7 linked regions of the Homo sapiens genome follow. The protein of the gene in region 3 purifies or fractionates together with the protein of the main gene of each other region. This does not show direct contact. Each region holds a gene or a part of one and is shown on either strand. Other genes may lie near its edges.

What was found.
Region 1: the proteins of BSG (region 3) and EARS2 purify together in Homo sapiens (affinity purification with mass spectrometry; 4 studies listed by BioGRID and IntAct, with this or other methods). This does not show direct contact.
Region 2: the proteins of BSG (region 3) and PDS5B purify together in Homo sapiens (affinity purification with mass spectrometry; 4 studies listed by BioGRID and IntAct, with this or other methods). This does not show direct contact.
Region 4: the proteins of BSG (region 3) and ATR purify together in Homo sapiens (affinity purification with mass spectrometry; 4 studies listed by BioGRID and IntAct, with this or other methods). This does not show direct contact.
Region 5: the proteins of BSG (region 3) and ATP2B4 purify together in Homo sapiens (affinity purification with mass spectrometry; 5 studies listed by BioGRID and IntAct, with this or other methods). This does not show direct contact.
Region 6: the proteins of BSG (region 3) and COG5 purify together in Homo sapiens (affinity purification with mass spectrometry; 4 studies listed by BioGRID and IntAct, with this or other methods). This does not show direct contact.
Region 7: the proteins of BSG (region 3) and GNPAT purify together in Homo sapiens (affinity purification with mass spectrometry; 5 studies listed by BioGRID and IntAct, with this or other methods). This does not show direct contact.

The regions. Positions count from the first base shown.
Region 1 is NC_000016.10:23,550,703-23,554,817, forward strand, and holds part of EARS2 (nondiscriminating glutamyl-tRNA synthetase EARS2, mitochondrial), read right to left. Parts: intron 1,603-4,115; coding exon 1,447-1,602; intron 1-1,446. UniProt on the Homo sapiens protein: Non-discriminating glutamyl-tRNA synthetase that catalyzes aminoacylation of both mitochondrial tRNA(Glu) and tRNA(Gln) and participates in RNA aminoacylation for mitochondrial protein translation.
Region 2 is NC_000013.11:32,757,295-32,761,409, reverse strand, and holds part of PDS5B (sister chromatid cohesion protein PDS5 homolog B), read right to left. Parts: intron 3,324-4,115; coding exon 3,191-3,323; intron 2,877-3,190; coding exon 2,757-2,876; intron 1,783-2,756; coding exon 1,720-1,782; intron 836-1,719; coding exon 690-835; intron 1-689. UniProt on the Homo sapiens protein: Regulator of sister chromatid cohesion in mitosis which may stabilize cohesin complex association with chromatin. May couple sister chromatid cohesion during mitosis to DNA replication.
Region 3 is NC_000019.10:575,486-579,095, reverse strand, and holds part of BSG (basigin isoform 1 precursor), read right to left. Parts: intron 1,323-3,610; coding exon 975-1,322; intron 1-974.
Region 4 is NC_000003.12:142,568,734-142,572,848, forward strand, and holds part of ATR (serine/threonine-protein kinase ATR), read right to left. Parts: intron 1-4,115. UniProt on the Homo sapiens protein: Serine/threonine protein kinase which activates checkpoint signaling upon genotoxic stresses such as ionizing radiation (IR), ultraviolet light (UV), or DNA replication stalling, thereby acting as a DNA damage sensor.
Region 5 is NC_000001.11:203,709,928-203,714,042, forward strand, and holds part of ATP2B4 (plasma membrane calcium-transporting ATPase 4), read left to right. Parts: intron 1-949; coding exon 950-1,181; intron 1,182-2,032; coding exon 2,033-2,212; intron 2,213-3,237; coding exon 3,238-3,325; intron 3,326-4,115. UniProt on the Homo sapiens protein: Calcium/calmodulin-regulated and magnesium-dependent enzyme that catalyzes the hydrolysis of ATP coupled with the transport of calcium out of the cell. By regulating sperm cell calcium homeostasis, may play a role in sperm motility.
Region 6 is NC_000007.14:107,284,058-107,288,172, forward strand, and holds part of COG5 (conserved oligomeric Golgi complex subunit 5), read right to left. Parts: intron 1-4,115.
Region 7 is NC_000001.11:231,268,436-231,272,550, reverse strand, and holds part of GNPAT (dihydroxyacetone phosphate acyltransferase), read right to left. Parts: intron 1,794-4,115; coding exon 1,551-1,793; intron 240-1,550; coding exon 160-239; intron 1-159. UniProt on the Homo sapiens protein: Dihydroxyacetonephosphate acyltransferase catalyzing the first step in the biosynthesis of plasmalogens, a subset of phospholipids that differ from other glycerolipids by having an alkyl chain attached through a vinyl ether linkage at the sn-1 position of the glycerol backbone, and which unique physical properties have an impact on various aspects of cell signaling and membrane biology.

The sequences.
Region 1 (4,115 bases), on a different chromosome or scaffold from region 3:
TTGGGATTACAGGCGTGAGCCACCACGCCCGGCCAACCATTTTATACTCTTTAGGAATCCAGAGTTTAGTGAGTAATTTACCTGAGATTAGAACACACATCTCAAAATAGTCTTGGGGTTTTTCTTTCTTTTTTTTTCAATCTCTAGACTAGCAGAGTCTTGGTATTTTTCCTTGGGAATCTCCCCTTTCCTAGTCACACCCGTCCATACAGGTAGACAACTGTCGACCCATGAAAAGGAAACACACTCCTCTTTGTTCTCCCTGACCTTAGCTGTCCTCAGGATAAAACTTCCCACAAGATCAACTTCAGAAGCTGTACGTGTTTTGTGTGGCTTATACAACATGGTTAAAAAAAATCTGAGCCCAGATTTAATAATGGTTAAGTATTCATCCAGAAAAACTGGATTTCTGGCTCCTCTTGCAACTCAGAGGATTGGACAAGCTGGGCCAGCATTCCCGCATGGGCACAAGGAGCTGGAGCTCAGAGGCACTCCCAACTCTGGATGAGGTGTGGTTTTCACAGCTCAGCACTGGCCCAGCTCCTCCAGTTCCCACTTGGCCCTGTGTTTCCTGCCTGGCCCCTGTAGGGAATGAACTTGAGATTCTGAGGTGAAAACAGGAATCTCAAAACAGCCTTGGCAGTGGCTCACACCTGTAATCCCAGCTCTTTGGGAGGCTGTAGCAGGAGGATTGCTTGAGCCCAGGAGTTTGAGAATAGCTTGGGCAACACAGTGAGATCTCATCTCTACAAAAAAATTAAAAATTAGCCAGGCGTGGTGGTGCGTGCCTGTAGTCCCAACTACTTGGGAGGCTAAGGTGGAGGATCACTTGAGCCCAGGTCGAGGCTACAGTAAGTTATGATTGTGCCATGGAACTCTAGCCTGGGTAACAAAATGAGACCCTGACTCTAAAAAATTAAAAAATAAAGAAACCAAGTTGGGCGCGGTGGCTCATGCCTATAATCCCAGCACTTTGGGAGGTCGAGGCAGGTGGATCACGAGGTCAGGAGGTCAAGATCATCCTTGCTAACACAGTGAAACCCCGTCTCTACTAAAAATACAAAAAAACTTAGCCGGGCGTGGTGGCGGGCGCCTGTAGTTCCAGCTACTTGGAGGCTGAGGCAGAAGAATGGCGTGAACCCGGAAGGCGGAGCTTGCAGTGAGCCGAGATCGCACCACTGCACTCCAGCCTGGGCAACAGAGCAAGACTCTGTCTCAAAAACAATAAATAAATAAAAATAAAGAAACCAGTCTTGGAGCTGTGTTTCAGAGAGCTTCGGCATTTTTTCAGGTGTCATCTGCCACCCCGGGCAGGGCAGTACAAATGTAGCCACTTCTCCAGGAACTCCCCATTTTCCACTCAGAACTCCATGAGAAGACCCACAGGCTCCTTTTCCTGCTTCCTGTTCCTTCCCTGCAGAAAGATCCTTTCTCTGCCAGGCTTACCTGCCCACTCCAGCATGTCCTCAATATTCTCCGCTGCCCCAGGCACAACGCGAGTCTGATCTGTGTCCTCTAGCCTCAGGATGAAGCTCCCCTGGTACTTCTTAGCAAAGATGTAGTTGTACAAGGCAGTGCGGAGGCCACCCAGGTGCAAGAAGCCTGGAGAAGAGAACAGCTCAGATAAGACAGGGAAGATAAGCTAATAGGCCTCAGCAAGGGGCAAGTAAGCACTACTGTGACAGAATGTTGCAATAAATTTAAAAGACCAGCAGGACACATTGGCTCACGCCTGTAATCCTACCACTTTGGGAGGCCAAGGCCGGGGGGATCACTTGAGCCCAGGAGGTTCCTGTAGGTTTTTTAAGACAAGAGTCTCACTCTGTCACCCAAGCTGGAGTGCAGTGGCACAGTCTTGGCTCACTGCAACCTCTGCCTCTTGTGTTTAAGCAATTCTCATGCCCAGCCTCCCGAGTAGCTGGGATTACAGGTGTGTGCCACCACGTCCAGCTACATGTTTGTATTTTTGGTAGAGACAGGCATTCGCCATGTTGGCAAGGCTGGTCTTGAACTCCTGGCCTCAAGTGATCCCCCCAGCCTCGGCCTCCCAAGTGCTGGGATCACAGGCAAGAGCCATCACACCTGGCCAATTTTTGTATTTTTAGTAAAGATAGGATTTTGCCATGGTGGTCAGGCTGATCTCGAACTCCTGACCTCAAGTGATCCATCTGCCTTGGCTTCCCAAAGTGCTGGGATTACAAGCGTGAGCCATTGTGCTTGGCCTGAGTTTGAGATCTGCCTGGGCAACATGGTGAGACCTTGTCTTAGCAAAAAATATAAAAATTTAGCTGGGCATGGTGGTACATGCCTGTGGTTTCAGTTACTGAGGTGGGAGGATCACCTGAGCCTGGGGACGCTGAGGCTGCAGCGAGCCATGATCACGCCTCTGCACTCCAGCCTGGGCAGCAGTAGAGTGAGACTCTGTCTCAAACAAAAAAAATTAAAAATTAAAAAATTTTTTTTCAAAGACTAAGAACTAGTTACCCCTGTGCCCTGTCTCCAGACACATTTAATCCCTCATCCTGAAAATGGAAACCACCCAGGATTTGGAGCATGTCATTTTATTAAAAGGCTCCAATTTTCCCCAACTGCATCCACCACTCTATTTTGATATTTGTCTCAAGGCCAAGTTTCGCCTGAAAGAGAAGCAGAGAGTTATTCATTGAGGCCATATCATGTACATTTAACTTACAGAAATTCAATGATGTGCGCTGGGAAAAAAATTAATTACAAACAAACTAGAAATTTAAAATACTGTACAATCATATTGTGGGCCAGGTGCAGTAGCTCACACCTCTAATCCCAGCACTTTTGGAGGCAGAGGCACGAGGATCACCTGGGTCTCTAAATTTGAGACCAGCCTGGGCAACATTGTGAGATCCTGTCTCTACAAAGAAAAAAAAAATCGGTGGGGCATGGTGGCTCACACCTTTAATCCCAGCACTTTGGGAGGCCGAGGCGGGTGGATCACAAAGTCAGGAGTTTGAGGCCAGCCTGGCCAACATGTTGAAACCCCGTCTCTACTAAAAATACCACAAAAAAAATTAGCTGGGCATGGTGGTGGGCGCCTGTAATCCCAGCTACTTGGGAGGTTGAGGCAGGAGAACTGCTTGAACCCAGGAGACAGAGGTTGCAGTGAGCCGAGATCGCACCATTGCACTCCAGCCTGGGCGACAGGGCGAGACTCCATCTCCAAAAAAAAAAAAAAAATCACATTTTGCATATGCAGTCTATGCAGTGTGCATGACTGTCCACGTCGTACATTTTAAATTTCATCTACTTGAGATTTTTACTTTTTTAAAGAAACAAAATTCATTTTTGAAATTTGAGATGGGGTCTCACTCTTGCCCAGGCTGAAGTCCAGTGGTACAGTCACGGCTCACTGCAGCCTCAACCACCCAGGCTCAATCAATCCTCCCACGTCAGCCTCCCAAGTAGCTGGAACTACAAGTGTACACCACCATGCCCGGCTAATATTTGTTTTTTGGTTTTTTTTTTGCAGAGGCAAGGTCTCACTATGTTGCCCAGGCTGGTCTCAAACTCCTGGGCTCAAGCAATCCTTACACTTCAGCCTCCCAAAGTGCTGGGATTACTGGCATGAGCCACCATGCCTTGCCAAGATTTTCACCCTAATTGCTGGCTTTAAACACTAACCAAAAGTAGTGTTTGATTCCACTGTATTTCTCTTCATCAGTTTAAACTCCTAAGATTTGCCTTTTTCATCATTCCTGTCTGAAAACTGAAAGTTAACAGCTTTTCCAGAGTTGTCATTACCTCTTACCGTACCTTCTTCGGACCAGCCCACAGCCCTAAGTCTCCACAATGAGCTCATCTACATTTACAAGTACAAGAGGCAGCAGAGGAGAGAAAAAGCTCTTCTGGGGCCAGGCCGACCCTGCTTCAACACTGATGTGTGTAACCTTCGGATAGTTACTGCAAGGACACCAGAAAACCAGTGGTATTCAGTGGCACTGAGTCCCACGAGTCCCCAAGACAAAAGAGGAACCCAGCTGCTGAAAACAAAGCCTCTTACATCAAGTACACCTGGATTCAAATTCTGCATCCACCATTTATTAGTTGCTACCCCTTGAGAAGGAACTCTACTTAACTTTTAT
Region 2 (4,115 bases), on a different chromosome or scaffold from region 3:
TACCCATGTAACAAACCTGCACATGTACCCTCTGTATCTAAAATAAAAGTTGAATTTAAAAAAAACAAAAAAGCAAAAACACACTTTTAAAAAAACGAAGTTTATATATGTACGTGGTACTATACAAATAAATTCAAATGATACCAAAAAGTATAAAATAACCTCCCTTTCTATACTAGGTTAACATAAATACTGTTAAGATTTTGCATATTCTTCAAAAAAACTTTCTATGCATATAAAAACAAATGTGAACATTAATCTGTTTTCAAAACTTAAAGATTCCATAATGCTGCTTTATATACTTTGCCTTTTTCACTCAATAATGTATTGTGGAAACTCTTCCATACTAACTCAGACCTCATCATGTTTAATGACTATGTATTCCATTGTATCATACACCATAATACAACAGTTTTACAATTGCTACACACTGAGGTTGGAAACTAGTTTATGTGTACTAACACAGATTACCCCCAACAAGCTAAAGAATGAAAGACTAAGACAGAGCACCCATCCAAAATGAGCAAGCAAATAAGTATGAACTTGTGACTACCAATGTTAAATGGAAAAATTAAGTAATACATTACTTTCCATTTACTGACATGAAACATTTTGGATTATATTATTTCAGATCTCATAGCCTTGCTGGAATCCTTAAATGTAAATTGTGGCATTTCTTTTGCACTTACCTCCCCTTTATTCTTCCAGGAGAGCTTGGATTTGAGCTGCTGCTTGCATTGCTTACAGTTTCCATTCGTGATGATTTGGTCTGAGATTGCTTGCCTGCTGATGAAAGTGGCTTGTTAACAGCTCCTAGAACATTGGTTGTTTTAGGCTGAAATGAGAAATGCACATCTCTTTTTATTTGGTTAAAGCCAAAAGAAAGTTACGTGTAAAGAACCATAAATAACATCTCTCTCAAAGTATTTACTTACAAATCATGAAAAATGTGTCTATCCTTAAGCAAAGTAATAAGTATAAACTAAATATCACTTGAACAAATTAAAAACTATACAGACAGCATAACAGTTGAATTTCTTAGTTATCTGGAGAAAACGGCTTACATAAAAAGTGAGAACAAATGAAATGAATAATCAACAATGAAAATAGATAATTAGACTCTTGCCATGGAAAGACATAAGAATATGCTTTTTTGGCCGGGTGCAGTGGCTCACGCCTGTAATCCCAGCACTTTGGGAGGCCAAGGCGGGTGTATCACGAGGTCAGGAGATCGAGACCATCCTGGCTAACACAGTGAAACCCCGTCTCTACTAAAAATACAAAAAATTAGCCAGGCGTGGTGGCAGGCACCTGTAGTCCCAGCTACTCAGGAGGCTGAGGCAGGAGAATGACTTGAACCCAGGAGGCGGAGCTTGCAGTGAGCCGAGATGCGCCACTGCACTCCAGCCTGGGCAACAGAGACTCCGTCTCAAAAAAAAAAGCCTTTTAAGATTTTTTTTATCTTGATATTAACCTAAGAAGTCTAAGAATCAGGTCTCCTAGGACTTTATTACAAGCTAAAAAGTAATTTGTGTATTTCAGCTTGTGTATATCTAGTAAATATAATTATTTCTTACTAGTAAATGTAAGATCGTTAATTCTTATATTTTCCAGCTTGAAAATATAAATTTTTGAAGAAATACAAAATAACACAATTTTGCCAATAATCACTCTAAAATAAGCTACCACATAAAAATTAAAATGATTCTCAAAACATACTTTTCCAGGAGTGAAAAATGATTTCATTTCAGGAGGCAGATAATTTTTGGTGTTACTGAAATTCTACAACCAAGAGAAAAAGAAGTAGTCAGTGAATATTAAAACACTATCTACAGGTGGTTCAAAAGCCAACAAAGCAAACAGCAGTTTTTTTATTTAAACTAAATTATCATATGAAACACAAAATTTCAGTCACTGATTTTAACTACTGTAATAAGGTTAAACCAACCTCATGCCAACTCTAATATTAACAAAACATATTTGAGCTCTAACATGTTAGAGCTCTAAGAGTGCATCAGAAAACACATGCTTCTTTAATAACACCCTTCAGGGGAAAGACCACATGTACATATTCCTATTACTCTGCTCACACCAACGTGACAGCCCTTTTAGCTACTGAGCAATCCTACAGGCCTGTTCCAAATCTCTATACACTGGTAAGGTCTTAACTGGCATTTTGCTTTAAAAGCAAAAAGAGGATAGTGGTTATTTCCAGACTCTGTTACTCAATATGTTCAGCTAAATTACGAGGAATTAAATAAATAAATTATAAAGGAGTAAGAGGGACTGTGGGAAACACTTTTTACATCTTATATCACACTCGAGTTTTTGGAGCATGGTTTGGTAACACTCTTGTAGTATTCCCAGGGTCTTAGGCATGTTCTAGTGTCTGTTCTCTGCTTGTTTCCTCATACCAATTATAAATCCCAATAAAGGGCTTTTAACTTCAGACTGTATCTCTATCAGCACTCTCCTTCCCATTTTGAACAATGGCCATTAATTCACAGATTCACATGCTTTGATCACATTTCTACCTGCGCTCTAAGACTGTCTTAAAACTGAACATAAACACCAGATCATCCTAATATCTGAACCTTATGTGTGTCCTCCAGTTTGACTCATATTCTGGTTCTGATCTTAAATCACATTCTTAAGACTCACAGCAATTTTTCCATGATCCTTCCTGATCTTCCTACAATCCAGTGCTGAGAATACATTTTATTTCAACTTACACAAACAAATTGTAAAGTAACTACCTTGTCAGGTTGAGTGAAGAAACGAGCTGGTAGTACCGGGTCTTTAGGAGATTCCAAACTGTATGTAGTACTCTTTGACATGATGATATTCATGGCAACATCACACACAGTGTACAGTTTCTGCAATAGTATATTTTTAAAAACACAGATACTTAAGCTGGCAATCTAGACTCTGTAAACTAGGAATAATTTCAGAACATGAATCCAGTCTGAATAGCAAACTAATGAAAGCAACAGTCTGTGTAAGCATCTTAGCTTACACTACTGGTTTTGCTCATTTACTTGTAATAAAATTACTGCTAATTCTACGTAATTCTAATTACTAATAGAAAAAATTATTTGATGCTATCTATAAATACTACAGAAGTTTCATACTTTACACCTAAATTTTTAAATCAATATGGAACCATAATTATTTACAAAGAATTACATACTTCATTCATTTTTGCATCATCTGGTCCTTGGGCATCTTTTGTTTGTTTAATATTTTCTACCATCTTTCTGATAAAAGCGTGACTGTTATTTTCATTTTTAGCCATTAATATTTCCAGAACAAACCAAAGACATCTAAAAAAAAAAAAAAGGAAAAAAGAAATATAGAAGAAAATCATCCTTTGTTAAATATAGATACAATAATTCTAAATATAAATATAACAAACCTAGATAATATAACTCCAGGAAGAAAAAAAAAAAAGAAACAGTTACAAACCAGCAGGGAAAAAGAATATGTCATACAAACATATAAAAACAGGTCAACAATGCAGATATGAGCTTATAAGATCCCTTCTTAAAATCTCACCAGATTTCCAAGGAGGCGGGTTAAAGGGGAAACATAAATGGTAGAAAGGATGAAGTTATCTTAACCCTCAGCTATGACAGGGAGTTAAAGACTGTCAAAGGAATAGTGGGGCCACGGATCAAGTGAGGCCTCAGATACTCAAGACTGACTACAGTCCTGATGGGAACTCTTCAAGAGAATATAACTGCCTTATTAAATATGAACAGTTAAGAATATTCAATAATAGAGAGAAAAAGTCAAGATTGACAATTATAAGCATTGTCTTTGCTTAAAAAGGGAAAAATTAAAAGAAAGCTTCAGTAGCTCAGTTTTAAACTTAATTACGTAAAACTCTATTCAATACAAAATGAAAGTGTTTTGCCTATGTATTATAGAGACAGAAAGGAACAAAGTTATAGTTGATACATAGAGGAGAAAAGTAATGGGAGAAGGAGGAGAGAAATGTGAAGCAAGGTATTATTCTAGAACAGAAAAGAAATAACCTTTAGGAACTTAGGTATAGGATAAGTTCTTCTGAAGTGGCTCCCTGATAGAATGGAGATTATGCATGGCTACACTGG
Region 3 (3,610 bases):
CTTGTAGCAGCCCCAGCACAAACTGGAAATTCTTTTCTAAAAACGTAGCCAGCTGGGCGCGGTGGTGGCCGGGCGCGGAGGCTCACGCCTGTAATCCCAGCACTTTGGGAGGCCAAGGCGGGTGGATCTCGAGGTCGGGAGATCGAGACCATCCTGGCTAACACGGTGAAACCCCGTCTCTTCTAAAAATACAAAAAATTAGCTGGGCATGTTGGCTCATGCCTGTAATCCCAGCTACTCAGGAGGCTGAGGCAGAAGAATCGCTTGAACCCGGGAGGCGGAAGTTGCAGTGAGCCGAGATTGTGCCACCACACTCCACCTGGGAACAGCAAGACTCCATCTCCAGGAAAAAAAAAAAAAATAGCCACAGCACCCCCGGCCAAGGCTCCCGTGCCCTTCTCTAGGAGGCACTCAGGTGGCCCCACATCCCCCCAGCCCCAGGCTGACGGCACTCCAGCAGTGCTGGGAGCACCCCGGTTCTTCTGCCAATCCCCAACCAAGCAAATCTCTTGGTTCTTGGTTAGTTTACAATATTCCCGCTAGGAATTGAAATTTGAAAATCCCTTAGAACGAGATGCTGCGAAGGACACAGAAGGTTCTGAGACCTGCAAGCCTGGGCTGAGCTTGGAGGGCCCCTCAGGCTTGCAGTATGGACGCTCAGGGAGGGAGCCGGGCAGGCGCCCGGGGAAGCAGAAACGACGGAACGGATGGCACGAGGGTCGAGGGGAGGACGAGGACCCACCTGCTGGAGGGCAGAGCCCTGCCTGCCCCGAGCCAGGCCGCCCAGCGCTGGTGGTCAGGCGGCGAGCCCACCCCCTTCAGGTCCGGGCCCCTCCGTCCAGGCGGTGGGCCCAACGGGGCACAGCGGGACGGAGAGGGGAGGAGGCGTCTGGGTTCTACTGAGCAGGAGCCGGGAGGCGAGCGGCACAGGAGGGAAACTGAGGGAGGCGGGGAGGGAGGTGCCCGCCACTCACGTTCCAGGACTAGCACGACTGCCTGGGCGCGGACCCACTTGACCCTGGGCGCCCGGGTCAGGTGGTTGCGATCCGGGTCGTTGCTGGCCCGGCACTCGTAAGTGCCCGTGTCCTCCTCCACGAGCGTGTCGATGGAGATGGTGCTGGCCGCGTGCTGGTGGTAGGTGGCGTGGATGTGGACGCGGTCCAGCCGGGCGCCGTCCCAGAGCTGGGAGCAGGTGTCGTTGGGACCCTGCCCTTCAAACCACCACTGGATCTCGGGCACCGGGCTGCCCACGGCCTCGCAGTGCAGCTCCACACTGCCCCCCACCCACCTCTGCTGGGACAGCGGCGCCTGGACGAAGCCGGCTGTGGGGAGAGCACGCGTGGGGTCTTGTTAGTGCCTGGGGCACTTGGGAGGGCAGCTCCTGGGGAAGGCCTCGCCCACAGGACTCCCAGCCAGGGCTGGTGGAGAAGCCACTTCCTTTCAGCTTGTGGGAGAGTGATGGGGCCCGGCTGGAAACAGCATGGCATGGGAAAGACCGTGGGCGTCCCGTCCACTGCTACCTCACGGCAGCCACGGCGGCTTCTGAGGGCACAACTGTGGGACCACACGTGGTTTCAAAACACAAAACACATGAAACTGGGCAGAAGAGCCAGGAGTCCTGAGCCCCGAGGGCTGCCCAGAGCTCAGGTCCCAAGCGCACCGTCCTCTGACTTCTGCCCGATACCCTGACCCCAGAGACCCGGGTGAGCTGCTGAGAAAAACAAACCCCAAAGCCCAAAGGGGCAGGCGGCCTCTGTCCAGAAGCCCCTAGCCCGGCTCCGTTAGGACAGCCCGTGGGTGGAAAGCTCGTGTCCTCAGCAATCTCTGAGGGCGGCGACCCAGAGAGAGGCGGATTTGGGAAGCTGGGAGCCAGGCAGGGCCTCAGGGCCTCTCACCTCCAGCCACACGCCTCCCCTTCCTTCGAAATGCAAGGGAAGGCCCCCAGAGCTGCCAAGGAGCACAGCAGAATCCACACAGAACCTCACACTGTGCCTAGCACTCGCCTGCCAGGAACAGCCCAGCCCAAGGGGAAGCGTGGGGAGTGCCTCCTCCCGCCAGGACCTTGCAGCCCTCCCCACAGCACCTTCTGAGGTCAGACTCCCCAGGCACCGCTACAACACACACACACACACAAGGACACACGTCTGCAAACACACACAACACATACACACGTGCATATGCGTGCACACGGCTCCGAGGCTGCGTGGCAGTGCACAGGTCACGGCCCCCAAGGCCACGGGGACAGGAATGTTCACGTCTGAGCACCTCAGGTGAGCTCTGGGCAGGCGCAGTTGACAAGTTTTGGCAGCGCCATTTTCTTTCTCCTCTTCTTCTTTTTTTTTTTTTTGAGACAGAGTCTCACTCTGTTCAGCAGTGGTGTAATCTCAGCTCACCGCAACCTCTGCCTCCCGGGTTCAAGCAATTCTCCTGCCTCAGCCTCCCAAGTAGCTGGGATTACAGGTGCCTGCCACCACACTCAGCTAATATTTTGTATTTTTAGTAGAGACGGGGTTTCACCATTTTGGCCAGGCTGGTATTGAACCCCTGACCTCGTGATCCACCCTCTTGGGCCTCCCAAAGTGCTGGGATTACAGGCGTGAGCCACCGCGCCTGGCTGGCAGTGCCATTTTCACAAAGGGATCTCCTCCTGGTAACCTACATTTCTTGGGAGTTAAGATTTCCCAGACTGCAACACTGGCAGCTATGTGCAGAGCTGGGCGAGGTGAGTCAGGGCAGGAAGCACAGCCAGAGGCTGCCCAGCTGGCAAGCTCCTTCCTGCCCTGCAGCAGCCCCTCTCCTCATCCTCCAGACCTGCAGGGCTGGGCTCCACATCCTCCTCACCCAGGGGTGCTAGGAGAGGGCTGGCCCCTGACTCACCTCACCCCACCTCCAGGCAGGGCAGGGCACACAGGAAAGTGAGGAGGACCAGGTGGGGCCCGCAGCCGAGCTGCCCCCAGCCACCTTTCCAGGAGTCCCGGGCTCCCAGGCGCCATCTGCACCGGTCCCGGTGCTCCCGCTGGGTCCGCCAGCTTCTCAGCGGGCAGCATCGCTCCCAAAGGGACCAAAAGGCTTTGGATGGAACAACCCTGTGTCCCTCCGGATGCTGATGATGCTGGTGTCTGTGTATTGACGTGTCACTGGGGGTGGGGGGGCGTCCGGAAGAGAAAGCCTCCATAGAGGCTCCTCGGGGACAATGCAGAGCGCCCCCACCCCACGGACCACCCCATCTCGCCCGCCGCACCAGGAGCCTCCACCCATGAGCAGCAGGAGGAGGGACGGCGCCTGACCCTCGGCCACAGCCCCAGAAAGGTTAGAATTCGATTCTGGCCACATGAGACGTAACCCATGTTCTCAAGTAAAGTCACCTTCATCTAAAAACAGCCTCCGCCTCCTTGCCCAGGGCTCAGGGCCAGGCAGGCCGCGTGGTACTTGTACACAAGCAGCCCCGCAGGATAAGGCTGCCCGCCCCCACCCGCCCTCCTCCCCACCCACCCCAGTGCTCAGACAGCAGCCAGCGAGAACAGCTCTGGGAAGCAGCCTCGGGCACCTCCCCCACCCACCCCCACCGGCCGCAGCCAGGCACTCCCACTCCTCTCATCTGAGGCTCGGG
Region 4 (4,115 bases), on a different chromosome or scaffold from region 3:
CCTGGCCTCTCCCCGCTCCCGGCACCCACACCAATTTCGGAGCAAAGTTGTGGGGGAGCCCAGGTGTTGTCAGGACCAGGCCGCGTGTGCATGTGCTCAGGACGGCACTGACACACCAGCCCCCTGCTGCCTCATCTCCCTCTGGACTTTGGGCAGGCCAAGCGGTAGGCTGAGGGCAGCTCAATATGGGCCTGCAGGCGCCCCTCGGCACGAACAGCCTCGGTGTAGTGGGTGGCAGGTTGATGGCAGCAGGAAGTAGGCTCCTGGGAGGAAAGGGGTGGGTCCCCAGTGAAGACCCACCTTCAAGCCAGGAACAGCTTGAAGCCTGGAAGCCTGGCTGCCAGTTACACGGACCACAGCGAGAACTTAGGGTGCTTTTTCCAGGCCCACCCATGACTGCCTATGGACCAATTAGCATTCACTTCCTCCCTTCTGAAGCACATAAAAACTAAATTTTTGGTGGAACGCTAATACCCTTTTCCACAGTGGCTGTACCATTGTACACTCCCACCTGCAGTGGACAAGGGTTCCAATTTCTCCACATCTTCACCAACACACGTTATTTTCTGGGTGTTTTTTTATTATTATTTTATTTTCCCCTTTTGGCGACAGGGTCTAACCCTGTTGCCCAGGTTACTGTGCAGTGGTGCACCCATAACTCACTGCAGCCTCAACCTCCCAGCCTCAGGAGATCCTCCCACCTCAGCCTCCTGAGTAGCTGGCACCACAGGTGCATGTCACCACACCCAGCTAATTTTTTGTATTTTTTGTAGAGACAGGGTTTCACCACGTTGCCCAGGCTGGTCTCAATCTCCTGGGCTCAAGCGATCTGCCTGCTTTGACCTCCCAAAGTGCTGGGATTGTAGGCATGAGTCACCATGCCCAACTGTGTTTTTTTTTTGTGGGATTTTTTTTGTTTTTTGGTTTTTTTTGAGACAGAGTCTTGCTCTGTCACCAGGCTGGAGTGCAGTGGCATGATCTCAACTCACTGCAACCTCTGTCTCCCGGGTTCAAGCAATTCTCCTGCCTCAGCCTCTCAAGTAGCTGGTACTACAGGCATGCACCACCATGCCTGGCTAATTTTTTGTATTTTAGTAGAGATGGGGTTTTACCATGTTGGCCAGGATGGTCTCAATCTCCTGACCTCGTGATCCGCCTGCCTCAGCCTCCCAAAGTGCTGGGATTACAGGCATCAGCCAACATGCCCAGCCCCAACTGTTTTTTTATTAATAGCTATCATAATGGGTGTGAAACAGTATCCTGTGGTTTTGATTTGCATCTCCCTAATGATTAGTAATTGTGAGCATCTTCTCATGTGCTTATTTGTCCATTTGTATATCTTCTTTGGAGAAATGTCTATTCAAGTTCTTTTTCTGTTTTTCATCAGGTTATATTTGTTGTTAAGCTGTAGGAGTTCTTAATATATTCTAGATATTAAACTCCTTATCAGACATATGATTTGCAAATATTTTCTCCAGTTCCATGGGTTGCCTTTTCACTCTATTGATACTGCCCTTTGATGCACAAAGTTTTTAATTTTGATGAATTCCAATTTATCTGTTTATTTTGCTGCCTGTGCTTTGTGTCATATCAAAGAAATCATTGCCAAATCCAGTGTCATAATGTTTTCCCTCTATGTTCCCTTATTTTTATTTATTTATTTACTTTTTGAGACAGAGTTTCACTCTTGTTGCCCAGGCTGGAGTGCAATGGCGCGATCTCAGCTCACCGCAACCTCCGCCTCCTGGGTTCAAGCGATTCTCCTGCCTCAGCCTCCTGAGTAGCTGCGATTACAAGCATGTACCACCACGCCTGGCTAATTTTGTATATTTTTAGTAGAGACAGGGTTTCTCCATGTTGGTCAGGCTAGTCTGGAACTCCTGACCTCAGGTGATCCACCCATCTTGGCCTCCCAAAGTGCTGGGATTATAGGTGTGAGCCACCATGCCCGGCCCCCTCTATGTTCACTTCTAAGAGTTTCATAGTTTTAGTTCTTATGTTTAGGTATTTGTATGCCTTTTGGACTTTTAAAATTTTCCTGTAGCAGTAAAGAGAGAAGCCAGATTGCAAGGGGCTGAAAATCTAATGAAATGTGAATACTGAGAATAGCGGGTTCTTTCCAAAGCTTGATCATGAAATGAAGAGAAGTAGAGTTGGTGATAACTAAAGAACTGTATGAGATCAAGAGGGCTTTGTTTTGTTTCTCCCTTATAATGGAAAGACCTAAGCAACCAATTCTTGAGATGTGACTCCTCTTCTTGGAACCAGATATAAGTAAAAAGACAATCCTTGGACAGGAGGGTAACTCTTTCATAAACATAGAAAGAATGGATGGGTACAGACGCAAATAATTTAATAAATTCAAAAGGCAAGTAAAACAAGATCCTCTGCTTCAAAGAACTCAGAATAGTTGCTGGGGAGAGGAGAGGAATGCACTTAAATAATCAAAAGCGGCCGGGCATGGTGGCTCACGCCTGTAATACGAGCATTTTGGGAGGCTAAGGCAGGCGGATCATGAGGTCAGTAGATCTAAACCATCCCGGCTAACATGGTGAAACCCCATCTCTGCTGAAAACACAAAAATCAGCTGGGTGTGGTGGCGGGCGCCTGTAGTCCCAGCTGCTCAGGAGGCTGAGGCAGGAGAATCGCTTGAATCTGGGAGGCGGAGATTGCAGTGAGTCGAGATCGCGCCACTGTACTCCAGCCTGGGCGACAGAGCGAGACTCAGTCTCAATAAATAAATAAATAAATAAATAAATAAATAAATAAATAAATAATCAAAAGCAAGTATCATGTACACCCAAAGCAGGGAATGATTAACTCTACCTAGAGGATTCACAGTGGGTTATGTGTGAGTGATTAGCAAAGTCCATCACTTCTGACAAAACAACTTAGGGTGTAGTAAGACAGTTACTTATAAATAATAGCATATATTTCATATATGTCACAATTTATTTCTATATAGCACTGTAAAATGTTCATACATTTTCCCCACTTATTATCTCAAATAGTGGTAAAAGAAAAAGAGTGAATTTTTTTCTTTTTCTGATACAGAGTCTCGCTCTGTCGGCCAGGGTGAAGTGCAGTTAGTGGCACGATCTTGGCTCACTGCAACCTCCGCCACCCGGGCTCAAGCAATTCTCCTGCCTCAGCCTCCCAAGTAGCTAGGATTACAGGCGTGTGCCACCACACCCAGCTAATTTTTGTATTTTTAGTAGAGACGGGGTTTCACCATGTTGGCCAGGCTGGCTCGAACTCCTGACCTCAGGTAATCCGCCCGCCTCAGCCTCCCAAAGTGCTGAGATTACAGGCGTGAGCCACCGCACCCGGCCCTTTTTCTTTTTTTTTTCTTTTGAGACGGAGTCTCGCTCTGTCGCCCAGGCTGGAGCGCAGTGGTGTGATCTCGGCTCACTGCAACCTCCGCCTCGCAGCTTCAAGTGATTCTCCTGCCTCAGCCTCCCGAGTAGCTGGGACTACAGGCACGTGCCACCACGCCCGGCTAATTTTTTGTATTTTTAGTAGAGACGGGGTTGCACCATGTTAGCCAGGATGGTTTCGATTTACTGACCTCATGATCCATCCGCCTCGGTCTCCCAAAGTGCTGGGATTATCGGCGTGAGCCACCACGCCCGGCCTGACTTTTTTTTTTTTTTTTTTTTTTTTTTTGATTATTCAAACCACAAAGTCCAATCCTAATTGATTACATATAGGATCAATAGCATTTACAGCTAATAAATGCCATAAAAGAACTGATACTGGTCGGGCATGGTAGCTCATGCCTGTAATCCCAGTGCTTTGGGAGTCCAAGGTGGGCAGACTGCTTGAGCTCAGGAGTTTGAGACCAGCCTGAGCAACATGATGAAACCCTGTCTCTACAAAAGAAATAGAAAAATGAGCAGGTATAGAGACACACACCTGTAGTCCCCAGCTACTCAGGAGGCTGAGGTGGGAGGATCGCTTGAGCCTGGGAGGCTACAGTGAGCCAAGATTGTGTCACTGCACTCCAGCCTCGGTGACAAAACCAGACCCCTGTCTCCAAAAAATAGAAAAGAAAAAAAAGAACTGTTCTCTGGTCCTGGTACATAGTAGACATTTAAAGAAAAAAAAACAACTCT
Region 5 (4,115 bases), on a different chromosome or scaffold from region 3:
CTACCCCCTCACTGTAACTAAATGATTCAATGTATGTAAAATGCCTTATACATAACAAGTACTAGAAACGTTTGTTCTGTGTTCTCTTTTCCTTCTCTTTCCTTCCCATTCCCATTTCTGATTACAGGGAATTTACATAACTTTAAAAGTGACTATTCGGCCAGGCGCAGTGGCTCACGCCTGTAATCCCAGCACTTTGGGAGGCCGAGGCAGGCAGAACACGAGGTCAGGAGTTCGAAACCAGCCCGACCAACATGGTGAAACCCTGTCTCTACTAAAAAAAAATACAAAAATTAGCCAGGCATGGTGGTGCGTGCCTGTAATCCCAGCTACTCAGGAGGCTGAGGCAGGAGAATCGCTTGAACCCAGAAGGCAGAGGTTGCAGTGAGCTGAGATCGCACCACTGCACTCCAGCCTGGGTGACAGAGTGAGACTCCATTACAAAAAAAAAAAAGTGACTATTAATAAATTACCCATAGTTCATCAAAAGTTGGCACTATACCTAAGTAGGGCTGAATTAACCAGTGCTCCAACATGGCTTTAGCCACCTTCTTTTAATCAGCACATTCTTGTATAGGAAACCTCCCCCAAACCACCAGCACCACACAGTGAGCACTATTCTAAATACTCGGATTGAAAAAGTCTCTCTGCCTTCAAGAAGTTCAAAAGAGCAGGTGATTCACAAATGACTTGCATTGCATTCACATATGGGTAAGAACAGATGACATGGGAGAATCCCACTCTCTATATATCTAGACCTTAACTCCATCCACAGCCCACCTACCTTGGAAAGAGGGACTCAGCTGGGTGATGAATGAAGGAAATGTTTGGCCACACTTGGAGCAATGTCTTTAGGAATAATACAGAGTTGCCAAAATACCTGTCAATGATTGTAGAAACGTATTGAGTGGGAAGGGAGACACCGCGTTCTTACTGTGCGCCTCCCCAGGTGTAATCGAATCCTGGACCGGAAAGGGGAAGCAGTGCCATTCAAGAATAAAGACAGAGATGATATGGTACGCACTGTCATCGAGCCCATGGCCTGTGATGGACTCCGGACTATCTGCATAGCTTACCGGGACTTCGATGACACAGAGCCCTCTTGGGACAATGAGAATGAGATCCTCACCGAACTGACCTGTATCGCGGTGGTGGGCATTGAGGACCCTGTGCGCCCAGAGGTGAGAGGGTGGGAAGCCACCCAGGAGTCTCAGGAAGTGGGGTACTAGTTCCCTTTCTAGTTGTGACCCCAGGCAGGTAACCTAACTGCCTCTCACTTAGAGGGATAGAAGTTTCTGTGCTTCCTGCTTCACAGGACTGCTGTGGAGTGCCAGTATGATCGAATGTGGCATTCCTAGGACTAATGCTGTCTGAGTGTTGAGAAGCAAAGGGCTTATTGGGCTCATTATTTGGTACTTAAGTGTTGTCAGGAGGTCAATTTAGCCAGGACACCAACTTTGTCTTTAGCTCCCTCCTTTCAATCAACACATTCTTTTTGAGTACCTGCTGTGTGCTGATAACTATTCTAGACACTAGGGGATTGAAAAGTCTCTGCTTCTAAGAAGTTTAGACAGATGGACTATTAATTCTCAAGGCCCAGAGGCATGAGAGGGTGTCATGCATGTGGGAAATTACAAAGAGCTGATATGGTTGGAACATGGGCCAGGTGGGTGGAGAGTGGCAAAAGCTTCTGCTAGAAAAGAAAGCACTGGCCAAATCGCAAAATGCCATTCATGCCCTGCCGAGAAGTCTCAATTGTAAGTGAAAGAGCAAGTTTTTACACCTCACTCCCAAAGCAAATTTCCCCTTCAACTCATGGTACAATAGGGCAAATTCAAATGTGACTGCCGTGGGTAGGACAGAAGTGAGGTGGCACCCAACAGTATCAAAATGACCAGACCTAGCCCATGCTGCATGGCACCACTTCTAGGGTGCCTTTCTCCTGTCTGCCACAAAGGGACAGACAAACAGGGACAGCTTACCAGGGTCATCACCCTCATCTGCGCCTTTCCCCTTTCTTCACTCTCCATAGGTGCCAGATGCTATTGCCAAATGCAAACAAGCTGGCATTACTGTCAGAATGGTGACAGGTGACAACATCAACACAGCCCGGGCCATTGCCACCAAATGTGGCATTCTGACACCTGGGGATGACTTCCTGTGCTTAGAAGGCAAAGAATTCAACCGGCTCATCCGCAACGAGAAAGGCGAGGTGGGTCCTGGCTAGGGGGAACCAGGACCTCACCTGACAAGGAAAAGGCGGGTTCTAGCATAAGGCATCTGGGTCATGTGCGGGAAGGTGGGTGGTTTCTAAAGTGAAAGCTATTCGTAGTGAAACATCTCCTTGTACCAAACTGCTGATATGGTAACATTGGGAGTTGCCGGCTGGGCGCGGTAGCTTACTCCTGTAATTCCAGCACTTTGGGAGGCCACGGCGGGTGGATCACAAGGTCAAGAGATAGAGACCATCCTGGCCAACATGGTGAAACCCCGTCTCTACCAAAAATACAAAAATTAGCTGGGCATGGTGGCGTGCACCTGTAGTCCCAGCTACTGGGGAGGCTGAGGCAGGAGAATCACTTGAACCTGGGAGGCGGAGGGTGCAGTGAGCCAAGATCATGCCACTGCACTCCAGCCTGGGCAACAGAGCAAGACTCCGTCTCAAAAAAGAAAAAAAAAAGAGGGGGGGAGTTGCTTGTGAATGAAGCTTGCTAGCTTCATTCACAAGCTATCTTTTGAGACAGTGTCACTAACTTTTCTTGTCTTTCTGCTTTTTCAGTTTTTTATACTGACTTCCCCCTAGCCCACCCCTCCTGTGTCCCTGCCCTTTGGCTAACAGTGGCTAAAGGAGAATGTGGTCTGGCGGTGGCACAGATCCAAGCTTTCCTGAGCTACATAGAAATCAAACCTAAGACCTCAGAAGCACCACTTTACCCACCCGAGCCAACAGCCAACCCTGGCCCACCTCCCATTAAAGGTCTGGGAAATGGGGGATTGGCTGCCAGGTAGGGACTTGGGAGGAAAAAGAAAAAAAGCAGGGCCTGAATGGTCATCATCCATGAATCTACCCTTGGAGACTGGTTGGCTGTTTCATCTCTGCTTAATCCAGAATAACACTTTCATGTGGGACTGTGGTGTACCCAATCTCCCAGTGACTCCAAGTGTATGGAGAAGTTAAGATTTTCCTGGATAGCTTTTCTGCATTTGACTGATCCAGGTGTGGTCTGGTGTTGGCAGGTAGAGCAAGAAAAGCTGGACAAGATCTGGCCTAAGCTTCGGGTCCTGGCGCGATCTTCTCCCACTGACAAGCACACCCTGGTGAAAGGTGAGGTTGGCTTCCAAATAGGTGCCTGCAACAGCTGAAGGCAGGCCAGGGCGAGGACAGATAAGAACCACCAGCCAAAGCCACTCTCCTGTCCAAATAGGGAGGTCCTAGGAGAGCTCCCAGGCTAGTGGGGAGAACATACAGTTAGCAAACATCTGAGCCCTTGGTGAGTATGACACACAATAAAGTTGTTGGGTTTTTATTTTTTTTATTTTTTGTTTTTATTTTTGGAGACCGAGTCTTGCTCTGTCACCCAGGCAGGAGTGGAGTGGTGCAATCTCAGCTCACTGCAACCTCCGCCTCGTGAGTTCAAGTGATTCTCCTGCCTCAGCCTCCCGAGTAGCTGGGACTACAGGCGCATGCCACCATGCCTGATTAATTTTTGTATTCTTAGTAGAGACAAGGTTTCACCATGTTGACCAGGCTGGTCTCGAACTCCTGACCCCAGGTGATCCGCCCACCTCGGCCTCCCAAAGTGTTGGGATTAGAGCCGTGAGCCACCGCACCTGGCAATTGCATGGGTTCTTAAAAACATGATCATGTCTTATTTACCAATAGTACTGTGAACTAGGCAGGGCAGGTATTCCCATTTTACAAATGAGGAAGTTTGAGGCTGAGAAGACAAGTAACTTACCCAAATTACCCAGCTGGTACGTGGAAATGGTGCAGTTTGACCCCTAGGTCTCTGCCTTGAAATCCATCCTATGTGTTCTTCATAGCTGTCTTAGGGTACCGGATGAGGACAAACTTAGTTCAGTGCTACTCATGAAACAACTTACTGCCCTTAGGT
Region 6 (4,115 bases), on a different chromosome or scaffold from region 3:
GGGATTACAGCTGCCCGCCACCATGCCCAGCTAATTGTTGTATTTTTAGTAGAGACAGGGTTTTGCCATGTTGGCCAGGATGGTCTCAAACTCCTGACTCCAGTGATCCACCCGCTTCGGCCTCACAAAGTGCTGGGATTACACGTGTGAGCAACCGTGCCCGGCCTATATTAACATTTTAATCTCTACGTAAGTCCCCACTATAAATGCACAATAATATGCACCAATACCTACTGTATTATCTGTTTCCTTAAACTAAAAGAATAACAGTAAAATCCTATTAATGCTAATGGGGGCTATGCCTTTACTTGTAAATCATACCTATAGAGTTATCGAAGCATATGGAAGAAAGACCAGCCTGCAGAGACCTGCTCCATTAGCTTGGCCCTTTCCATCCATAGCTGCCTCCCCAGTAAAGCTCACTGACTGAGAGGGAAGTGTACAGACTTAGGTTTTTACATTTTCCATTTTTGTGTTACTAACAAGAGTGAGACAAAATAAAAAGTATTTATGGAAGTCCTAAAATCACGTAAATACTCCCAAGTGGAGTTCTATGCTACTTTGTTTTATAATATTCTTCACAACATCAAATGTAACCTGAGAAACATTTCTTTCCTGCTTGCACTTCCCATATCTTTAATAATTCATGCTGATTTTCATTTAGCAGTCAAACTATTTGATCTTACATTTTTCTTTCGACAATTACTATCAAATGTCTATAACCATTATTTTCATGTTTCCTTACTCCTATAATTAATTGTCTTCTCACATCATCCCTGTTTACAATCCTTCCACCAGCTTTTGCATTGTCTTTTTTCTTTTATAAACAACAAATTTTCCTTCATCTAAAAAGTTAACCTTTAAAACATCTAACCTGCTCCTTCATGTATATGAAACTTGGCTTTCTCTTTTTCTCACCCTTCTGGTCCACTGATATGACCTAGAGATCAGAATGCTCTTGGCTCCAACATCATAATTCCATAGTTATCTCTTAATGTTTTCTCATTCAGTAAGTATTTCACTCAACACATATTTACTGAGAATACTACGCACCAGGCACTTTGTAAAGTGCTGGGAAGATAGAGATTAAGAGTGCTTTACAGTCTTGTGAAGAAATTGGCAGGTAAAATGCTAATTATAATAATTTCTGTAATAGATGAAGATACCAAGACCATGATGGAAGCATGAAAGAACTTAGTATCTAAATGTGTCTGAAGCAATCCTCTGTTGAAGTCCGAGCCATCTATTTAAATGTCACTATTTTTACTCATGACATCTACTGACCTCAGAAGCCTCTTCCCACTTCTGCAGAAATTTTGGCACTGAATTATAAGAACTAACACTTTCCCGTTCTCCAAATCTACCGTTAAAGATCCTTGGTAACTACAATGTCAAACATCTTTTCTAAAATATGTCCTATATTAAAAGTCTACATTTATAATAACCTTTTTTGGCTTTACTAGGGGGCTTCCAAATTTGAGTCATCACTTTGAACTGCTCCACCTCTAAGATCTTCAAGCTTAAAGGAAACTGTCTACATGCCCCACCTTCTATCTCTACTTTTCCTTCCACAAATATTAAGTCACTACAATATTTGCCAAGTATTTCCTAGGTGCAGAAATATAGTAGAGAACTTGCTTTAAAAAAAAAATTCCCGGCCGGACCTGGTGGCATGGTGGCATGTGCCTGTAATCCCAGCTACTCAGGAGACTGAGAGAGAATTGCTTGAACCCAGGAGGAAAGGGTGCAGTGAGCCAAGATCATGCCACTGCACTCCAGCCTGGGCGACACAGCAAGACTCTGTCAAGAAAAAAAAAAAAAAATTCCCTGTCTTCTTAAAGCTTACACAGTAACAGGAGAGATATACACAAAAATAAAAATTTAAAATAAGTTAAATATGGAATATGATAATGATAAGTGCTAAGAGAAAAATAAAGCAAGGAAGATAGAGAATAATGCTTAAGTCTTTTTTCCTTTTCCATCCGATTTTAGATAGGATGAGGCAAAGGAAGGCTTACTGAGGGGCCCTGAAGGAAAAGAGGGAGCTAATTGTGTAGATTTTCAGGGAAATTGCTTTCCATGAGGAAAGAACAGCAAGTACAAAGGCCCTGAGGAGAGACCATACCTGGCTGTGTTGGCCAGAGGTGCAGATCAAGTAACAGGAGGGTAGTACAAGATAATATCAGAGAAAACAGATGGACGTCATGTTAGGCTTTGCATATCTATAAGGGTGGTATATTTTACTCTAAAGAACTTGTTCTTTGACCTTATTGTAATTTATGCTACATGACCCCTTCTTGCTTCCAGCCTCCATCAGCCCACCATGTCTATAGTCATCCTTTTTCCATAGCCATCATTTCAAGGTGCTCTCATTAGCACCCTGATTTTTCCAATTCACCTTCCTTTCAAAGTTCTAAGAAAATGTTATTGAGATGTTCTCTGTATCTGCTGCTAAGCTGGCCAAGTACTTCAGAGAAAAAATGATTTCTACTGGACATTTATACAAACTTCTTTAAAATCAAGAGACCTGAAGGTCAAAGTAATAACCTAAAATTCTACTTGTGCAACTCTTCAATCTTTATAGATGACTTTTGTCTTGGTTTTACCCTAAGAGAAAACCACTGGCCGTGACCTTTCTCAACGTGGCACTTCTCTTGTTTTTTTCCCTCTTACAACTTCATCTATTCTCTGTGACTTTCTTATTATTTCAATGAAAGAGGTAACCTCACTCCTTTTTTTAAAATAAAAAATTCCCAGAATAATTTAATCTATCTCTTCTTATCCCATTCTCTTCTTACACAGATCTGATCGCTATACATGTATCACAGCATCACTCTATATATGTATAAATATTATGTGTCAGTTAAAAAAATAAAGGAAAAAGATATGTCAGCATAAAAAATATAAAGACATATCTCTAAGTAAAAAGGTTTTATTGGGGAATAACATACGAGAAGCAGGATTGCTATCTTGGACCTACAGACAGAACAGGGTGGCCTCTGGTATGTTTGGAAAACAAAAGAAAGGCTGGAGTTTATTGGGGGAAGAGGAGGTTATGCAAGTTGTTTTCAAAGACAGTTTACTGGCACTGGCAGCATCTTATATAAGAGCTGGTGAGTTCTGATTGGTGAGTGTCAGTAAATTGCAAAGTAGGACTTGCAATTTTAGTGTTATGGTTAGGCCCTTGCAGTTTGGATTGGGCTTGTGAGATAGTGTGTCAGGCAAATGTTCTTGTTTAAGTGGCTAGCTGTCCCTGTGTGACTTGTGTAGTAAGCTGCAGTTGAGAAAAATTTCTTGTGATAGTTCTTGTTATCAGGCAAATCATGTGTGACAGCTCTCCCTTCATAACCGTCCCCCAGCTCTATTTTGCCAGGCTTTGACACAAGTGACTCCATGTCGAATCTGACAACTTTCATATATATAATTTACATAGCATACCACCACTTGAATTCAATCACTGAAAGTATACAATTTGATGAATTTTGTATATTCAGAGATCTGTGCTATCATCACCACAGTCAATTTTAGAACATTTTATCACCTCAAAAAGAAATCTTGTATCTTTAACTACAACACTCCACCTTCCTCACTCCATCCCCAGGCCCAATCGATCACTAATCTACTTTGTGTTTCTATAGATTTTGCTATTCTGGATTTGCATATGAATGGGATAATATACTGTGTGTATCTGTGTATGTGTGTGTTTTACTGTCTTCTTTCACTTAGTATAATGTTTTCAAGGTTCATCCATGTTGCAGCATGTACAGTACTTCATTTCTTTTTATGGCTAATATTGTATATATTTTAATTGTAATATTTCATTGTATGAATATAGCACATTTTGTTTACCCATTTGTCTGTTGACAGACATTTGGTTGTTTCCATCTTTTGGCTATCAGGAATAATGCTGCTACAAACATTTGCATACAAATGTCTACGTGAACATATGTTTTTATTTCCCTTGGGTATACATCTGGAGCGAAACTGCTGGGTCATATGGTAACTATGTTTAATAGTTTGAAGAGGCCGCACATAGTGGCTCATGCCTGTAATCCCAACACTTTGGGAGGCTGAGGCAGGAGGATCCCTTGAGCCCAGAAGTTCAAGACCAGCCT
Region 7 (4,115 bases), on a different chromosome or scaffold from region 3:
TCTGCTGAACTGTGAGCGCCCCAGTTTCTCTTGAAGTCTGCCCCACTTTGCCTTGAAGAAAGGGATGGCACACTGCCTGAGACACATCTGTGAATTCACCCCTAACATTTCTAGAACTCACACTGCAAACATACTTGCTCTTTGTTGTAAGCACTTTACCTTTAGTGTGTTTCCTGGAAGGAAGATGAACTCATCTGCAAAAACATCACGTAGGAAGCGAAAGCAACTGTAGACATCCTCTGGAAATAAATGCATCATGTAAAATTACAACATTGCCCTTTAAACTTTAAGGGAGTACCAGGAAGTCCTTACTATCACAAAATGTATTTCAAAGGCATATTTTATTCATGTAACAGGGACAAGAATTAAGTCCCCTGAGGGAAGCTAAATTAAACCCAAATCTTACCCACAGAGCAAACTACGGTCTAGCATAGTTTGTTTTTTGTTTTTTGAGATGGAGTCTCGCTCTGTCACCCAGGCTGGAGTGCAATGGTGCAATCTTGGCTCACTGCAACCTCCGCCTCCTGGGGTCAAGCGATTCTCCAGCCTCAGCCTCCCAAGTAGCTGGGATTACAGGCACTCGCCGCCATGCCCAGCTAATTTTTGTATTTTAATAGAGACAGGGTTTCACCATGTTGGTCAGGCTGGACTCGAACTCCTGACATCGTGATCCTCCTACCACGGCCTACCAAAGTGCTGGGATTACAGGCGTGAGCCACTGCGCCCGGCCCTAGCATAGTTTTTAAATGATTGACTCTAACCTACAACCAGGCTTCTACTCAGCGAGACATCACAGTCCTTAGAGGCCAGGACGCTTCATTTTTCCCTACCCCATGGCTCCCTAGTAGGGAAGGAAAGGTACTGATTTCTTAATTTCCCTCTATATTCATATTTCCTGGTATCTTTATTATATCTGTAGCACTTTTCCTTAGAATCACTGTGGAGCTTTGAAAAGCCAAAACCAAAACCAAAACCAAACACCAATGGCTGGCCCATACCCCAGGTCAACTGAAGAAACTTTGGGGTGGGGCTCACTCCCCTAGTAATTCTAACATAGGGCCTTGACAGAACCCCCTGGCCTTGACTACAGGCTCCTGTGAACATGACGTGTACTGTACTCATTTTTATACTCCTGATACAATTAGAACAAGACCATGCATCTCGGGAGTACTCATCGACTGCTGACTGCTCATCTGCCCACCTGCCTTTGCTGGATCAGGGAGCTGGCACAGCCAAAACAGTGCCGCAGACCAGGAAGTGGAGAACTGTACTCAAATGCCAGATCCTTCTCTCAGTAATTATGCAACTTTCTAGGCCTCATTTTCCATATTTATAGAAGGAAAGGTTTAGATTATTTCCAGGTCCTCCCAATTCCAAAATTCGAAGCAGATGAACAAGTATTTGGGGAACAAAGCTAACTTTTTCTCAGTGATAGGCCTGCTCTTCACCGGCGTGAGGCTGAACATTACAAGGCTTCAAATGTGGCTCCCTAAATGGAATGGAATGGCCAGACCTCTTCTAAAAGTCAAGATTGCATTCCTGAAAATTACCTTTCCTGAACCCTGGTGTCATCTGCAATGCTACTGCTACTAAGGATGGGCGCACAAAAATGTTGAGCAGCTGGTTCCTATAAGCTGAGCACATGAGGAGAGTGATGTGCTGGAGCATAAGCCCATCGACCACTTCCGAGTCTCCGGAGTCCACTTTCAGAATCACCTGGTCTTTGACAAGGCTGGCAATGTTGGAATGCAGAAGAATGCTGGCCGGGACAACTTCTTCAGCAGGTTTATTATCTACACACAAAGACAATTCATTCAAACAAGATGGGTCACTGCAGGGAGTCTTAGGCCTAGCGTACGTTAACGTTATTAATGGTAACGTGACAGATGCTCATTTTCAAGTGACAGGTTTTACTGTCTACCAATTACGGTAATGATACCAAATCTGAAGAAAAATTTAAAAGTACTATTTCATAAATCAATTCTTTCTCTCTCTCTAAGGACATGTAACATACTTTCTTACCCCCAAAATTTGTCAGCCATTCTGAAAGGCACATCAGTTTCTACTCTGAAAATGAACACCACTTCTGTGTACTTCAGGAACCAAGGGAATCTAAAGTTTTCTAACAGCAAGTTACATAACTGGAAAGTCACATGCACGGGAATGTAAGAATACTAAGAAAAAGGCCCATGATTAGTGTATGAATACATTAAAACATACAACACACACACACATGCACACACACCCCTTGCTTAGACCCATACTAAAATGGTAAAAATATCACTTTGCAGTTTTCCCCAAATCAAAGATAACTAAAGGGGCAGCTCCATGGCAGTTGGTAGCTTATCACCTGACATATTGGCCTGCAGACAGCTGCCAGGCAGGTAGAATTACAGAAGCATAATGAAGAGATGGTGATATTTAACAAATATTCTCAGCACGGAAAATTATTCTGCAGTTAACCTGAGCCAAAGAGCTGGCTGGCAGTGGCACACTGCTCAAGTTGGGTGGCAAGTTCTGCTACTGCTTCAAGGCAGGGACAAGTGAGAGGTATGGCTTCCTCCTGGACTTGATCACATTCATTCTTGAACAACTTGCCTTGTCTCAGCTTGCTCAATTGAATAATATTTTATGTGAAATGATCATAAAAAGCTTGAGATATGAACATGCTTAGGAATGTGGGGTAATCTGCATAAAAAAAGAAAAAAGGAACAGAACTGTAGTGACACTGAACAGATACTCTTAGTTATGGATTAGTTATGGCATTTATCCCATCCTGAAAAAGCAAAACACTTTAGAAAAACAAGTACCTATGTTTTCATATGTTCCTGGGCCAAACAATGATGGGTTTGAGCCCTTTTAGCTATTTCTCATGACATCCAACACTTGCTACTTGTATCATAATTAACACATCCTTTGCCTCCTACCAGACCCAGCCCATCACAGCACTGAGAACAGGTGTCTGATTTGTCTCTCTCTTGGTGACTGGCATTTTTGTCAGTAAATCCTCCTCATCTCTTGGCTGTGCCCTGAGTGCCTCCACTGCTGCGGCTCAGGCATCTCAGGCATCCTGCATTTCTCATTGGGACAGAGCAGCCTCCTAACTTGTTTCTATACCTCCAGTCTTCTGATGGTGGATGGTGGGGAGGAGGCGGGGAGGTCCATCTTTATTTTCCATCTACCCACCACCCCATCTGGGCCAACACTTTAATATCACTGATGAATCTCTGGGGCCCAAGCCTCCCATCTTGCATTCCTCATCCCTGCCTTGGCGAGGATCCTCTCCTGGTCTTCCTGAAGGGTTCAAAAGTCGCTTCTGTGAAGTCTTCCTGAGTATGGTCCCTTTCCTCTGCAGCACTCTCAGGAACCCTCTGCAGCATGCATGTTGCTCCTTGTCTCTGTTCACTGAACCCTCACAACTTGTTTACACATTACCCACCCACCCTGCCCTCTGCAACCCAGGGGAACGTCCAGGATGGGGATGGCATCTTGTTCATCTTCATATCCCTGGTAGTACCCAGCACAGAGGAGGTATTCAGTATTGGGTTGATCAAAGAACAGTAGGTACTTGACTTCAAATAATTATCTGGTCTTTAAAAAAAAACGCATTTCCAACTGTAGCCTGTACAATTTTTTTTTTTTTTTGAGACGGAATCTCGCTCTATCACCCAGGCTGGAGTGCAGTGGCGCAATCTTGGCTCACTGCAATCTCTGCCTCCCAGGTTCAAGCAATTTTCCTGCCTCAGCCTCCCGAGTAGCTGGGATTACAGGTGCACGCCACCATGCCCGGCTAATTTTTGTGTTTTTAGTAGAGACGGAGTTTCACCATGTTGGTCAGGCTGGTCTGGAACTGCTGACCTCGTGATCCGCCCGCCTCAGCCTCCCAAAGTGCTGGGATTACAGGTGTGAGCCACCACGCCCGGCCTTTTTTTTTTTTTTTTGGAGATGGGGTCTCACTATGTTACTGAGGCTGGTCTCGAACTCCTGGGCTCAAGTGATCCTCCCACCTCAGCCTCCCAAGTAGCTGGGATTATAGGTGTGTACCACCATGCCTGGCTAGGATTCATGACTTTATTTTCCACCGTACTAGGTGCCAAGGAAATGGTATTCTAGTC